Regions from separate parts of the Homo sapiens genome. Here region 2 is linked to region 1. Evidence: fine-mapped expression QTL. A gene starts in region 1. The other region holds a variant in brackets. All regions are shown on one strand. Distances are from middle to middle. Region 1 holds the start of VCF1 (VCP nuclear cofactor family member 1). Region 2 overlaps VCF1 (VCP nuclear cofactor family member 1).

What was found.
Region 2: its variant is fine-mapped to the expression of VCF1 in blood mononuclear cells (TOPMed, PIP above 0.99).

Annotation. Positions count from the first base shown.
Region 1 is chr17:73,227,410-73,235,745 of GRCh38, reverse strand. It overlaps VCF1 (VCP nuclear cofactor family member 1), which reads left to right and starts at 3,352. Exons shown (of 4, transcript NM_001098832.2): 1 at 3,352-3,660. The coding sequence starts at 3,440. It overlaps MTNAP1 (mitochondrial nucleoid associated protein 1), which reads right to left and starts at 3,313. Exons shown (of 6, transcript NM_001351264.2): 1 at 3,257-3,313; 2 at 2,421-2,526; 3 at 1-270. The coding sequence starts at 263. RefSeq lists enhancers at 3,859-4,635, 6,717-6,766.
Region 2 is chr17:73,208,884-73,217,163 of GRCh38, reverse strand. VCF1 (VCP nuclear cofactor family member 1) reads left to right here. Exons shown (of 4, transcript NM_001098832.2): 3 at 4,424-4,486; 4 at 7,396-8,280. The coding sequence ends at 7,635. Among named protein-coding and RNA genes, the nearest start is that of VCF1, 19 kb to the left of the region's middle. The variant GT/T (reference allele first, on the strand shown) is at 5,211.

The sequences.
Region 1 (8,336 bases):
TGTTCTGGTTTGTCCACCACCAACTTAGAATTTCTTTCTTCATTCTCTGTCTCTAACTCTTTCCCTTTAGCTTTAATTAAATCTTTGATTGGTCCTTTCATCTTTTTAGCACGTGGGAGTGTAGCTGGCTTGGACTGATAAACTTTTTGATCAGTAGGTATGGTTGGTCCTATCATCTTACAGTATGGCAAGTGGGATTTTAATCGTTTAAATGGCTTCTTACAGTAAGGACACACTTCCATTCTGGGTGGATTATCACTCATCCTATTCCTGAAAAAGGTAAATGTGAGATTATGAGAAGCACATAGTTTGTACATACCAATATTTTACTTATGTGTTGTATCTTTTAAATTCATTTGGAACAAGCTAGATGTTTGCTACTTACGGTTACAGCAAGTCAACTAGTCATTATATGAGTATAAAAAATTGTTTAAAAACCCTTAAACACGTTATTCAAGGACAGAATGGTAAAGAATAAAAAACTTAGGCCAGGAACCAAAGGTTATTTATTTATTTATTTATTTTGGAAACAGAGTCTCACTCTGTCACCCAGGCTGGAGTGCAGTGGCACAATATCTGCTCACTGCAAACTCCGCCTCCCAGGTTCAAGCAATTCTCGTCTCAGCCTCCCAAGTAGTTGGGACTACAGGGGCATGCCACCACGCCTGACTAATTTTTTGTATTTTAGTAAAGACGGGGTTTCACCGTGTCCGTGTTACCCAGACTGGTCTCGAACTCCTGAGCTCTGGCAATCCACCCACCTCAGCCCCCTAAAGTGCTGAGATTACAGGCGCGAGCTACCACGCCCACGCCCAGCCAAAGGTTACTGATTACAGCAGAGGTTTCCAAAGTGATAAATAGAATATGCACTAGGGTGTAAGAAGAAAATATTAGAATTACCACAATCAAAGAATGAGAAATGAAGCTCTACTAACATTTAGTAATATGCATATACACACACACACACACACAGATATACATAAAATGTATGCATAATGCACAAATATATACATGGCCAAGGACACAGTCCTGTTTTTCACTTATACTTTTTTTTTTTTTTTTTTGAGACAGAGTCTCACTCTGTCACCAGGCCGGAGTGCAGTGTCGGCTCACTGAAACCTCCATTTCCCAGGTTCAAGCTATTGTCCTGCCTCAGCATCCCGAGGAGCTGGGACTACAGGCATGCGCCACCACGCCAGGCTAATTTTTGTATTTTTAGTAGAGACGGGGTTTCACCATGTTGGCCAGGATGGTCTCAATCTCCTGACTTCGTGATCTGCCCGCCTTCGGCCTTCCAGTGTGCTGGGATTACAGGCGTGAGACACCACGCCTGGCCTACTTATAGTTTCTAGTACAACAGATTACTGGCAAATTAGTTTGACATCTTTGTTAAACATATACGATGTAAAAAATTAAAAAAAAAACATTTATACCATGTATATTTGTACCTGTTATTCTTTAGAGTCCAGAAAAGAAAATGTTTAATTCCAATGTTTAGTTGAAAGTTATTTCCTTTCTACATCTCTTATTCTTTCTATAAAGTTCCAGAGGGCAGGAAACATATCTATCCTGCACACAGCTGTATGTAAAAACCTAGCACTGAGCCTGGCATACAATATTTGTTCACTTAATTCTTTAGATATAAACGTTTAAATATTATTCAGTACTACAACTGATAATATCTTCTGACTACCAAAGAGATTAAAAAGGGTGACTGAAACCACTTACAAAATAGACACAATCTTCACCAATCCATTCAATAAAGCAACCAACCCACCTTATCCTGTACGAAGTCCTTCAAAACAAAACTGTTTTCTGCCAACAGATTACAGTAATCATTTTTACTTTGTTGTTGTTTGGTCTTTTTTTTTTTGAGATGGAGTCTTGCTCTATCACTCAGGCTGGAGTGCAGTGGCGCGATCTCGGCTCACAGCAACCTCAGCCTCCCAGGTTCAAACGGTTCTCCTGCCTCAGCCTCCCGCGTGGCTGGGATTACTGGGATTAAGGGCGTGCGCCACCACGCCCAGCTAATTTTAGTATTTTTAGTAGAGACGGGGTTTCACCATGTTGGCCAGGCTGGTCTTGAACTCCTGACCTCAGGTGATCCACCCGCCTCGGCCTCCCAAAGTGCTGGGACTACAGGCGTGAGCCACCGCGCCCAGCCTGCTGGGATTACAGGCGTGAGCCATCATTCTTTCTTTCTTTGGAGGTACACACTAACAGGATGAAAGCCACAGACTGTTTGTTTACAATAATACACACAAATGAAGCCAGTCCATGGACCTTCGGCTAACAACGTTAGGAAGGGCTTGACACCTGCTAGACGTTTCTGCCTCCACTCCACCTCACACTCAACCCTACTTGAAAGATCCCGGTACATTCCCACGATAACGTCTATACGTGGGTGTCTGTTTTCTTACCCGAGCTCCTCCAGGAGGATGCTAGTTTTGTGGGTGCTTCTCCCGGATCCCCATGCTTCCCCGATCACCGTTCCCGAGTGTGGCAGAATGAAACGTGAATGTCAGCCTGTGTAGGACACGATCAGACAGGTGACTTGGCAGCATGCACAGTGAGTAAACGCGGCACGATACTGAACCAAATAGAAACACAGGTTCCGGAAAGCAGAGAGTTAAGACCTCCCCAGCCTCCGGGCTCAAGGAGGACCTCAATAGTTCCACTAATCCTCACCCTCACCTCCGGCGCTCTCCAGCCGCCTTTCCCTCCTCCCGCTGCGTTACCAGCCTGCCCACCTCCCCGCACCCTTCCTTTCCCTGAAAGCTGTTCTGATTCTGCCAGCTGTTCTGATTCTGCGGAGTGGATGGGGTCGGCCCGGCAGCTCCTGGGTCAGGGACAGCCGTTCCCGCAGCCCCACCGAGGATTTCCTCCTGCGGTTCCAGGAAGACCCTCCGCCGGCCCCGGCACCCGATTCCCTACCCTCTCCGCTCAGGAGAGTCTCCCCCAGACTTAGAACGTGGGCCGCGGAAAACAAACCCGCCCTTGCAAGCTCCCCACAGAGCACCGTCCTCACCTCGGAAGACCTGAAAGCCCAGGCGGCCCCGGCGACAAGCCCCCCAGGGAAGCCCCCCAGGCCCCTGCCCAACCCCCGGCCAAGGAACCTCGTCAGGCCGTCTGCACCACTGCCGGATAGGTCCGCCTGTTTTAAAATATGTTACACGGATTCAACTCAAATACTTGTATGATATTATTATGACATAATTGAATTTATTTGAAACCTGGCTTGACTTTTATACCGTACCCTCCGTTGGCTGTGAACAGGCGAGCGCTTCTGCCACCCCAGGGGAGGTCCTTTCTCCCAGAAGCTCCTAGTCGCTCCTCCCGCTCCGAGCCCGCCTCTTCCCGTGGGCGGGGTTACCAGTCGGTGCGGTTGGGATGGTGCCACTGCGCAGCCGCGAGAGGGCGGTACCACGGCGGCAGCGACATGGGGGGGCGCGGAGCAGACGCCGGAAGTAGTGGTGGTACGGGTCCGACTGAGGGGTACTCGCCACCGGCTGCGTCCACCCGAGCGGCTGCGAGAGCCAAGGCCCGAGGGGGTGGGCGTGGCGGCCGCCGAAACACAACCCCCTCTGTTCCCTCTCTTCGCGGAGCGGCGCCGCGTAGCTTCCATCCGCCAGCTGCCATGAGCGAGCGCCTCCGTCCCAGGTGAGAGGGAAGGGACCCCCTTTCCATTCGTCGCCTGAGGATCTGGGAGATAGAGCCGAGGGGGCGCGCGAAATGGGGGTCGGAGCAAGAGTGGACCCGGCGGGGCTCCCTGTGGGGTGCACTGCGGGCCGGGGGAGGAGGGGAGAGGGATGCGCGAGTGATCGGATGCTTGGTTCCTGTGGGTAGCTGGAAGGTGACTCTCCGGGGTCCAGGTCTCCCGCCCCTCCATCTTTTTTCCCCCCTGTCTTTTCCTATTTGGAACGAAGTGTGATCGGTCCCGGAAGAGAGACGGTGGCCCTAAAGCTTTCCTGTCCTAAATTTAGGAGGGTGGGGGGATGGGATAAACGTCTCATCTTGGAGAGGGAGCCCCCAAAGGCTTTTGTGAGGGCACCGGGCGGGGAGCTGCCGGCTCCCCAAGGTCAGAAAGAAAGGTTGGGCTTAACCCCGCAGCAGGGAAAGATTCGGTTAGACCGAAGAACTTGTGCCCTGAACGGTTGTGAACACAGAAGGGCAGATGACCAAGGCGGGTTATGGATCTTCTCTTGACTGTGGCATTAAGAACAAGCTGGATTCTAAACTGTTTGGATTGCGGGGCCGTTTGACTCCGAAGGCGGGAGGAAAGATTTTATCGCGATGCACTCGCTACCTTCCCGAGGGAGCCTGGCCTCGGGACGCGGGTCTTAAATTAGGGGTTCTGTGCTTGACATGTACTACTAGAGTCCGGACTAAGTTGGGATTTCTTAATTTTTTTCTCTCTCTTAATTTCCTCTGCAAGAATGTGTGGAGGAGAAAGTTGGGAAAGGTTACCTCAGAATGCTCTTCCTGTTACGGTCTTTCCACAAGGATCCTTCTCTGAAATAATTATTTCATGTGATTGAAGTTCTCAAAAGTATTCTGAGTTTATTTGGTCCCATAGTGAAAACCTAGGGTTCCCCAAGCTGCTGCATTGGATTATTGATTTGGGTCATGTAGCAGGTGGAGCATAAAGCCTCTCCTTGTATAGAAAAGAAGAGTGGACTAAATTTGAAATTGGGGGCCCAATTACAGACATGCCATCGGAATTAGGAGCAAGATCTTTAGATACAGTGAATCTGACCCGACTGCCATATTATTCTTTCCCAAACCCAGTTTATACTTACGATATTCTCTTGGGGTGTCTCACATATCTGAAAAAAAATCTAAATATTTCCTACAAATAAAAATTCTACTGTACATAACTAATCTGAATGCATTTATACTGGCAGTAGATTCCTTTTATCTTGTACACAAATAATCTCAACATGTTTTAAAGAAGTTATTTGATTTGGACAGGCTTTTCCTGCCAGTGTTTAATGGAGTATGATGGGCCAGCTCTGCCAGCTCTAGGATGGTCTAAGACGGTGGTTTTTCGGCTGGGTGCGGTGGCTCACGCCTGTAATCCCAGCACTTTGGGAAGTCAAGGCGGGCGGATCACCTGAGGTCAGGAGTTGGAGATCACTCTGGCCAACATGGTGAAACTCTGTCTCTACTAAAAATACAAAAAAATTAGTTGGGCCTGGTGGTGGGCACCTTCATCCCAGCTACTTGGGAGGCTAAGGCAGGAGAATCGCTTGAACCTGGAAGGCGGAGGTTGCAGTGAGCGGAGATCACTGCACTCAAGCCTGAGCAACAAGAGCGAAACTTCCATCTAAAAAAAAAAAAGGGTTTTCAGGCTCTCCCACAGTAGATTGGATAGCCGCAGAGAGGTGAGTGTGTAGTGAGGGAGTCCCTGCTTATTGATTGATTGATTGGTTGATTGATTGACTGATTGATTGACAGAGTCTCACTCTGTCGACCAGGCTGGAGTGCAGTGGCCCCATCATGCCTCACTGCAGCCTCAACCTCCCAGGCTCAGGTGATCCTCCCACGTCAGCCTCCTGAGTAGCTGGAGCACAGGTGTGAGCTACCACACCCAGCTAATCTGTGTATTTTTGGTAGAGGTGGGGTTTCACTATATTGCCCAGGCTGGTCTTGAACTCCTGGGCTCAAGGGATCCACCCGCCTCGGCATCCCAAAGTGCTGGGATTACAGATGTGAGCCACCTCACCAGACTGGGAGTCCCTACTTTAACAGATCCTTTATCTCTTATATAGAGAGAATTTTTTTACAGTAAGAAAGAAAGAGTTCTGTTACTTTTTAAAATAAAGTTTGAAAACCACTAGTTTCCATACTCTTTTTTTTTTTTTTTTTTTTTTTTTTTGAGATGGAGTCTCACTGTGTCGGCCAGGCTGGAGTGCAGTGGTGCGATCTCGGCACACTGCAACCTCTACCTCCTGGGTTCAAGCAGTTCCCCTGCCTCAGCCTCCCAAGTAGCTGGGATTACAGGCACACGCCACCACGCCCTGCTAACTCTTTTGTATTTTTAGTAGAGACAGGGTTTCACCATGTGGGCCAGGCTGGTTTCGAACTCCTGACCTCAAGTGATCTGCCTGCCTCAGCCTCCCAAAGTGCTGGGATTACAGGTGTGAGTCACCGTGCCCAGCCCATACTCTTAAGATTATTTCTATGCCGAGTCTCTAGGAGATGACAGGAAGGTTGGAGAGAAATGAAATAATGCAACGTGATGGAATCAACCATCTGTAGAAGTAACAGATGCTAACTGGTAATCTGCACCTAGATGGTTAGGGAAGAATATAATCAGTTATAGGGGTGCCTGCTAAAATCATAACCTGGTCTGTGGCATTAATGCCAAAAATTGTAATCTGATTGATTGAACTGATAGGGATGAGCATGAAGCTGTAATCTTGCCAGTTGTTAACACCATTGTTGAAAGAAGAATGTTTCAAGGATGAGATCTGCTAAGAGCCTAGAAAAAGGCAAATGAAGAGCAGGTAGGACTCTTTCTTAATCTGGTACCATCCAGAGGAGAAGGCTACCAACAGGCCAAAGAGATTATTCTGGTGCCTTGAGAGATCAAGTAATTTATGAGGCAGGGATATTTCATGTGACTCTCCCAGAGATTAGTTGAAATCCACAAAATCATCTCATCTTTTTTTGTTCTTACAGTCCCTCTGCCATGCAACCTCCTTGACATTCATAGTCTTGTCCCTGGAAAGATCTATCCCCCATTATAAATGAGGAGATAGCAAATTTTGATCAGGCTCCTAAGTTTGGTTAGAGTGACTCAGCAGCCCAAAGCCCAGTCAGCTGTTGGCACGCTGATAAAATGGGTGTGTGAGGACCAGCAGCTGCTACTTACTCAATGACTTTCTCTTTGGGTGTCGACTGGCCTCCCAGCAGACATTGCTTTGCCTCTGCAGAACACTCCCACTCAAATTCCCTGATCATATTAGGATGAAATTAGCAGTTTCTTGGTTCAAATTTATGATAAAAGCACACCCATTTAATGATTATTAAAACCTGATATTCATCTATTTTTTTTTAACCTCCAACTACTTCAAAGTAATGTGCAGCTAAGATCTGATCTCCTAAGAGAAAGGTGGGGAGCAGAAATGTCTTAGAATGAAGTAAATTACATAGCCCAGTGCAGGATGGTTGAAGCTTTATCAGAACCACACACTCTTTATTATTCCAAACTTAAGCTGGGATCCATACTCATTATTAAAGTTAGACCTATTCAGAATGTTGCAGAGTACAGAGAAGTGAGCTTAGGGTGATCATTTATTTTCTCTAATATTCAAACCTCAACTCAAAACCTTTAGGATTAAAGGCCTGCCACTGTAAGCCACCCTACTCTCATAGAAAGTGTATAATTATTTAGAAGACACTATATCCTCCAAATGTACATGCTTTCCAAGAGCTGTGTGTCCACACTAGCCTTTTGTCTCTTAACTATAGAAAGCTGAAACTTCAAGGGTTTTGTAATAGGTGCTGCTGCCATGTACATACAGACCTCTAGCCTGTGCTGCTCCGGAGAACGTTCTGCAGTGACGGAAATGTCCTTTATCTGTGCTGGTCAGTGCAGTAGCCACTAGCTACACGTGGCCACTGAGCACTAGAAACAGGGCAGCTGTGACCTAGGAACTGGATGGTTAATTTTAGTTAATTTAAATGTAAATAACCATATGTGGCTAGTGGCTACCGTATTGGACAGTACAGTTCCGGGCAATTTGACTGAAAATTATACCTCCTTTAATTTATTTCTGTTTTCTAACAGGTTCAGAAATCGTTTTGACAGCACATAATTCTTAAATAGAGTACATGCAAATTTGGTCTTTCTTGCATGTCCGAGAACACTTGCCTAAGAAAGATGTGTGATTTTTCTTTAAACCTGGAAATTTTAAGCAGCTTATGCTATCATCTCATAGTAACAATCTAGTGAAGTAATTGTTATATCATAATACCGGCTAGTGTTGCCAGAATAAGCAGGTGAATGTGACCAAGAGGTACTTTTATAAGGGTTTTCAGGGCAAATAGGCAAAGGCAGCCACTCTTATATCAAATGTTGTCATATGGAAGGGAGTACAATTAGGTAACTCGGAATCCTAATTTCAGGGAGTGTAAAAAGAAGAAAACCTTAATTAGGTTAGAGGTTGAAAGCTTAGTCATTAACCTCTTCCTGTTCTTGTTTCAGTCCCAACAGACATTTAAAATTGTTAAGCTTCTTTTTAGAAATGAGTTTTACTAACTTAAGCTTGACCTCGCTGCTGCTGTCTTGTATTTTTGCTCTTAGTGTCCAGTGATGCTGTACTTCCAAC
Region 2 (8,280 bases), 19 kb after region 1:
GAGATGAGGTTTCACCATGTTGGCCAGGCTGGTCTCGAACTCCTGGCCTCAACTGATCCACCCGCCTTGGCCTCCCAAAGTGTTGAGATTACAGGCATGAGCCACTGGGCCCAGCCCTGCTTTTCAAATTAAGAAGAGAAAGCATTTGGTTCTAGATAATATACACATAGCTCTCTTTTTATGAAGTGGAATGGCTTAGTGATTAATATTTCTGTCTGAGGTGGGGGTGCTTTCTTAAGGTTATTAGTAGAAATGGTGTTTGGAGTTGTTTAGTTTCTGCCATGGGTATAAGTGAGTTGTCTCTTAAACTGACTTTGCACACTGGAAAAATAAAATGAAAGGCAGGCCTGGCTGAGAGACCAGAGCTTCTGTGCCCTTTGATGTATCATTTGAGCCCTTTGGACTAAGAAAATGAACTTCAACTTCCCCGTCCTCTGCTTCACAATTTAGTTATATCTAGCCCTTCTGCCAAAGAGAGTAGTGTGTCCTTCTGCCTTTTTGCTCTATATTCTCTCAAGACTCCTGAAAGCTTTTTCTAGTATTTCTCCCTTCTTTTCGGCTCTTCAGATTCCTTTTACCCACTGTTTCTTTCCCTGGCCTGCTAGTGGGCTCTTTTCCCCACTCACCTCCTCTCTGCCTTGTTTTCCCCTCAGCTTCCTGTGTGCCTTCTCCCTCTCCCTCCCGCCAGTCACCTTCAGTTGCCTGCAGCCACTGCTGGGACTTTCTCATCGGCCTTCCCTCCCTTACTCTCTGGATCCTGGCTTCCTCCTTGACTCTATTCAAACTTTTTGCCAGGCTCACCAATGGTCTTTCCATTCAGCAAACAGTTCCCAAACACCTGCTGTCTGCCCAGCACTGTCCTGATGCTCGAGTACCCTATGTCTTCTTCCTCTCCTTCCGGAGTTCTTTCTGTCCTCCTCGGGGGTGGTGCGTGTTCTCCTTCCTTGTCATTTCCACAGTCCTCCTGGGCCTGCCTTCCTGCTTGTTGTATTAGGAAAGCTCCCAGTAGGGCTCTGCTTTCAGATCCTTAACCTCATTCATCTCCCACAGATTCCTAGGATCCCCACTCGTAAGTATAGACCTGAGCCAGTCTTCCATGCTCAGGACCCACCTGTTCCTGCAGCCCTCATGGCTCTTGATAATCTAGCCATCACCTCTTGTGCAGTTTCCCTCTCACTCACTCCTGTCAAGGGCCCACCCACACCACACCTTGCTTTTCTGAGTTTGCTCTTGTTCCCATTGGTCATACCCTGCCTGTGAAAATTCTTCCTTATCCTCCTGGGCCCAGCTGAGACACCATTCATGTTAAGGATCCTCTCCTAGTACTCAGTCAGCATCCATTGCTGGATTCCCATCACCACAGTAGCTGTGAACTGTTGTTACCAATGGGTATGGTGCCACCATTTTCTTGATTCAGCTCAGTAAATATTTACTGAATGCTTCAGCAGCCCTAGTGGAACGCCTTGTACATAGTAAGCACACAAACATTTCTTTGCCCAGTGGTTGGATGTGAGAACAAGCTGCACCTTCCTTTTGCCAGCATGGTGCTGAGGTGGGGCCCTGGCATTTACACTTTAAAAAGCCCCTAGTGGCCAGGTGCAGTGGCTTACACTTGTAATCCTAGCACTTTGTGGGGCTGAGGCAGGAGGATATCTTGAGCCCAGGAGTTCAAGACCAGCCTGGGCAACATAGTGAGACCTCGTCTCTACAAAAAATAGCTGGGCATGGTGGCATGCGCCTGTAGTCCCAGCTGCTCAAGAGGCTGAGGCAGGAGGATCGTTTGAGCATGGGAGGTCAAGGCTTCAGTGAGTTGTAATCATGCCACTGCTCCAGCCTGAGTGACAGAGCAAGACCTTGTTTCAAAAAATGAAATAAAAAGCCCATAGGTAATTCCAAAATAGATTGTATCATGGCAGTTCTCTTCTGGGTCTTACCCAGATGTCTGCGGTTATAAGGATACAGTGGTAGGTTTTATTATTACCGAAACTAACCTAGAATCCTTTTTCACACAGATCTTCAAGACAGGACTCTTTGTATATTGTTGAGAGAGATTCTTGGCCAGAGCCTTCATAAATTTATCTTGCTTGTGTTCACAGACCTGCAAGGGGTTTTTATTTCACAGATCACACGCAGCTTTATTCTCTTTGGATTGTGTCATGAAAATAGCCTGGTCAGATGTCATGTCAGCACTAAGCCTAAATGGACAATTCAGAGAAAAGAAAATGAGCTTTGTAACCGTTGATTTGGTTAAACTGTTTGATGAGTCTGTAAGGAATCAGGATCATAAGAGTGGGATTCCTATTTGATGGTCCTTCTCAGTCCCAAAGTCTTTGGACCCTTGTTTCTCTTTTGGTAAAAGAATTTGGTGTCTTTTCGAGAACAAATGTGACAAGGTAAACACTTCTCTACTAAGATAGCAGTTTCCATTTCCAAAGCCGTGCATCATCAAGTATTGGCTTTTGCCCTCAAGCAATCTGATATTAAAAAGCTTCAACTAAGTGAGGGAAATAGGATTTTTTCCTGTTTCAAGATGTTTACTTTAGGAGACAAAAATGTTTTACTTCTGTATATATCTTAAGGCACTAATACAGACTTCAAATTTAGTTTTATGCCTTTTGGGTTAAAAGTGAAGAATGGTCTTTCCTTTATCCCATAAAGCAGATGACTTTGGTGGCTGACAGTGTTAAGATCAACTACAGTAACTTCAAAAAATTTTTTGACCCTGTTCCATAGAAATGCTTTATTTTGTAACCCAGTACATACCAAATATATTTGTGAATAATTGAAAGAAAGCTTCACAGAACAATATCCTTATGTTGCACTCTGTTGTCCTTTTTTTTTTTTTTTAATGCTGGTTGTAACCCACCAATTTGATGCTGGTTTCACTCTCAATTTGAAAAATCCTGGTCCATCTATAGATTGTGTGACACTCCCTAAGCCTCCACAGTAGTGAGAAAACTGGTCTGAATTGTCAGAAAATAGAAACCAAAGCCTCAGTAGTTTAACACTATCATTGGTCTGCTCAATGCAAGTTAATACAACTGAAGCAGCTTTAGAAGTTCTGAGGTAGTTAAGGTGAAACAATCTTCTCAAAATCATATTGGCAGTATCAATACTTTTCAGTCTCCATTTTGAAGTTAAATGTAATTGAAGACCTTACTTGGTTTCCTAGTAGCATTCTTTTTTTTTCTTTTGAAACAGAGTCTCACTTTGTCACCCAGGCTGGAGTGCAGTGGTGCCATCTCGGCTCAGTACAACCTCTGCCTCCCAGGTTCAAGCGATTCTGCTGTCTCAGCCTCCTGAGAAGCTGGGACTACAGGGATGCGCCACCACGCCCGGCTACTTTTTGTATTTTTAGTAGAGACGCGGTTTCGCCATGTTGGCCAGGCTGGTCTCGAACTCCTGGCCTCAAGTGATCTGCCTGCCTCAGCCTCCCAAAGTGCTGGGATTACAGGTGTGAGCCACCATGCCTGGCCCATGGTAGCATTCTTTAGTTCACTTACTCATTATCAGTTTCTTCCTCAAAAGAAATGTTTTTTGATAGACACTTGAGAAAATAAATTTTAAAATAAAATAGAAGATCCAAATCGTAAATATTTTGTCATATATATCCTTCCAGATTGTTTTTGGTGTATATAAATATATGTATGAATACACTTGAGAAAAACATTTTAAGAATCAACTGATATACTATATATACTGCTTAGTATGAACTGAAATGATGTAAAAAATGATGCCAAAGACTTCGATGTTAGTATATGTATGTCTCTATGATCATTGCTAATGGCTGAATAGAATTTCATCATATATGTATATTAATGGATGTAATATAATTAAACCAATTCTCTATTAGACATTTAGGTTGTTTCCAATTTTTAGCCATTATAAACAAGGCCCAGTAAACACTTTTTTTTTTTTCTTTTGAGACAGTCTTGCTTTGTTGCCAGGCTGGAGTGCAGTGGCGTGATCTCAGCTCACTGCAACCTCCGCCTCCTGGGTTCAAGTGATTCTCCTGCCTCAGCCTCCCAAGCAGCTGGGACTACAGGCACACACCACCACGCCCAGCTAATTTTTGTATTTTTAGTAGAGACGGGGTTTCACCATGTTGGCCAGGAAGGTCTCGATCTCTTGACCTCATGATCTGCCCATCTCAGCCTCCCAAAATGCTGGCATTACAGGCGTGAACCACCGCGCCCAGCCAAGATTTTTTAAATGAACTGGAAATTGCAAATCTACCTAACCCTAAAAAAAATAAAAAATAAAAAAAAATTATGTACAGAAATCTTCCCTAATCTGTTTAAAGAACTTTTGCCTTTTCTTAGAGTAGCATCACCCTTGTGCTATTATAGTACGAAATAGATATAATTTGAGATGAAAACTTGACTTACTAGAAACTGATTGTAGTTCTTGCCTTGATTTTCAGACAGTACCTGTAATGAGAAACAGTAAAGAAAACAGACTAAGAGGAAACAAAGCGTTCTGCGCGGTGGGTTTCTAATTGAGTGTAGTGACCTGTTTGTTAAATATTCATGATTCGCAAGGTGCAAGTGGCCATTCTACATTGTTATACTAGGTTAGGAGACGCCTTTGTAGAATACAATTTTTGTTTTTGACTTTGACTTCTTAAGCCTCTAAGTAAATACAGTTGCAGCTGGCTGCAAATCCTGCTATCTGACTTCATCAGCCCGGCCCATTATCATCCTTTCATGAGGTTTTTATTTTTTTATTTTTTTATTCTAGAAAGAGGGGTTGTCCCCTGCTACCTGTAGGTATTGGGGTATGTGACCATAGCTCCAATGGCCTCGGCACCATCACAAGTCTTGGTTTGAGTCTTGTTAATGATGGCAGCTTTGTGAACATTGCTTGTTTTCATTGTTTCAGATAAGTTATCTATATGCATATTATTGGATGTAATTTTTGGTCAAAAAAGGGATAGAACTAGGATTTTAAGAATCACTTTAAAATATATATCTGTAAACAGCATTTTGTTTAATTTATACATTTTTATAATAAAAATACATAATAACCACATTGCAAAAAAGTTGAAGTGTAGAAAAAGTCAAGCAGCTATAATCTTTCCATCCTAATATAACTACTGTGATTTCGTTCTTTCTTTCCAGTCTTTATTTTTTTTGAGACAGTCTCATTCCGATTGCGTAGGCTGGAGTGCGGTGGTGCAATCTTGGCTCACTGCCACCTCGACCTCCGAG[GT/T]TCAAGTGATTCCCCCACCTCAGCTTCCTGAGTAGCTGGGACTATAGGCGCGAGCCACCACGCCCAGATAATTTTTTTGTTTTGTTTTGTTTTTGAGATGGAGTCTTACTCTGTCACTAGGCTGGAGGGCAGTGGCGTGATCTCGGCTCACTGCAACCTTCACCTCCCGGGTTCAAGCGATTCTCTTGCCTCAGCCTCCCTAGTAGCTGGGACCACAGGCACACACCACCATGCCCAGCTAATTTTTGTGTTTTTAGTGGAGATGGGGTTTCACCTTGTTGGCCAGGATGGTCTCGACCTCTTGACCTCGTGATCCACCTGCCTCGGGCTCCCAAAGTGCTGGGATTACAGGCATGAGCCACCGCGCCTGGCCTTTTTTTTTTTTGAGATGAAGTCTTGCTCTTGTTGCCCAGGCTGGGTGCAATGGCGCGATCTCGGCTCACTGCAACCTCCACCCCCCAGGTTCAAGCGATCTCCTGCCTCGGCCTCCCTAGTAGCTGGGATTACAGCCGCCTGCCACCATGCCCGGCTAATTTTTGTATTTTTAATTGATACGGGGTTTCACTATGTTGGCTAGGCTGGTCTCAAAACTCCTGAGGCATGAGCCACTGCACCCGGCCAATTTTTTTGTATTTTTAATGGAGATGGGGGTTTTGCCATGTTGGCCAGGCTGGGGTTTTGCCATGTTGGCCAGGTCTCGAACTCCTGCACTCAAGCAGTCCACCTGCCTCAGCCAACCAAAGTGCTGGGATTACAAGTGTGAGGCACTGCACCTGGCCTCCAGTCTTTTTTTTCTTATGTGTAGACTTTACCTAGTTGTAAGCAGACATTTCAGAACCAATGTCTTTGCCTAAGGGAACATAAATGTGGATGTATTAAACGGCTAAGTTTTAAAAAACAATTATATGCTAGATATTAATTACTAGAATTCTTTCTCATGTGCTGAATACAATATTGTATTGCACTGTAAACACAGAAAGGTACTGCCAATTCAGTTATCAGGGTTGTCATTTATTAGAAATGCAATAGTAAAATTGTAAAATAAGGCTGGGCATGGTGGCTCATGCCTGTAATCTTTCCTGCCTGGCACTTTCAGAGGCCAAGGCAGGAGGATTGCTTGAGCTCAGGAGTTGGAGACCAGCCTGAGCAACATAGCGAGATCTTGTCTCTACTAAAAAAAAAAAAAAAAAAAAAATAACGAGGCATGGTGGCGTACGCTTGTAGTACCAGCTGCTTAGGAAGCTGAGGTGGAACAATTGCTTGAGCCCAGGAGATTGAGGCTGCAGTGAGCTTGATCCACTGCACTCGAGCCTGCGTAACAGAGTGAGACCTTGTCTCCAAAAAAAATTGTAAAATACCATAATTCTGAAATGGGTCCTTCGTGTCACCCTCCCCTTTGAGAGTCCTAGTGGTGGAAGGCGGGAATTTCTGAAAGTGACTTTTTTTTTTTTTTTTTTAAAACATGAACTGCAGAATGAAAGTGACTCTTATCAGGGATCTCCGAGTAGCCTCTCCAAGATGACTAAAACACCAAGTCATGTTAGTTACATTAAAGAAAAAGTTAGGCACGCTCATGTACACACATGTACATATGAACTGCAATAATGCCAACATAAGATAACTTGACCAGAAGTCTATTAAAGTCCTTTCAGGGTCTGTGTCCTGCAGTTACAGAATACCATTTTGTGTCTATGATGATCACAAAATTGGCATAGGCTTTTAGTTTTTATCTTCGCTTATACCCAGAAGCCATCTTATTTGTCACCTTTTTTATACTCTGTCCCAATGACTCATACATTCCCTTGGAGGCTGAGAACTGCCTTCTTTGGTTGGAAATTATTGAAATGAATGGGAAAAGCAGGTATAGAATATGTGCAAAAGAATTAGGATATAGTTGAAAGGATTTGGAGTTAGGCAGCCCGTGCTTGAACCTGGACTGGACCCATCCTCCTAGAGCTGTGTATTAAGGACAATAAACCCTGCTCAGCCTGACAGGGTGGCTGTGAGGAGAGGATGAAACGTTTTAGGAGAGCGTACTTTATCAATTCCAAAGCCCAGTATATGTCTTCATCCTCAAGCTGAACTGGAAAGGTACTCTTAATAGAGCGCTGTACATGAAACCACAGTAAAGCTCTTAAACAAAACAGCCTTATTGTGACCCTGTTTCTTTCTTCTTCCTTCCAGTCTTCAGGCAGTGACAGTGGTGGGAGCAGCAGCAGCAGCAGCAGCAGCATCAATAGCCCGGACAGGGCCAGCGGGCCGGAAGGCAGCTTGAGCCAGACCATGGCCGGATCCAGCCCTAACACGCCTCAGCCCGTGCCCGAGCAGTCCGCGCTGTGCCAAGGCCTCTACTTCCACATCAACCAGACCCTGAGGGAGGCCCACTTCCACAGCCTACAGCACCGAGGGCGGCCTCTGACATGATGTGCCGGCAGTTTCTTGCCTTCTGTGAAGGGACAGCGCTGTGCAGATTTGATATTTCAACTTACAACTTGTTTTAAAAGAAAAATTGCACACGAAAAATGCCTGTTGGCTTTTCAGTCTATATTTGAAATAACAGGTTAACAGGCAGTTGTTTACTTGTGGTTTTGCTGCACTATTGCAATTTCAAAGGGGCTTTGAAGCAATTTTTTATAGGATTCTTTTGAGGGAGGGTATCAAATCTATGTCAAGGTAGTGGTTTGAGGAAAACTCATTCTGTGTGTTGAATCCATAGTATGTCCCATTCAGACTGATTTCCAAATCTGTCAACTAGAAACTCTACTTTATGTAAAGGGCCTTTTAAAAATGCGGGATCTTCAATTTTTTTTATTCAATAAACTAGTAAAGAGTATCTAGTTTCCATGAAAAAACATAAGTTTTTTTCCAAAATATAGGAAGCTTGATTCAGTCTTGCACTGAAATTAACTGCCATACTACCTCTCAGTATGTAGATGTTCTATTGAAAGTACTCTCTCCTGTGTAACAGGAGAACAATCAGATCCAATTCAGACTGTCAGTGAAGCACACTCCCTAATAATAGTCTCTACTCTTTGTTATATATTTGTATTTCCAGAGAGAATGTCTTTT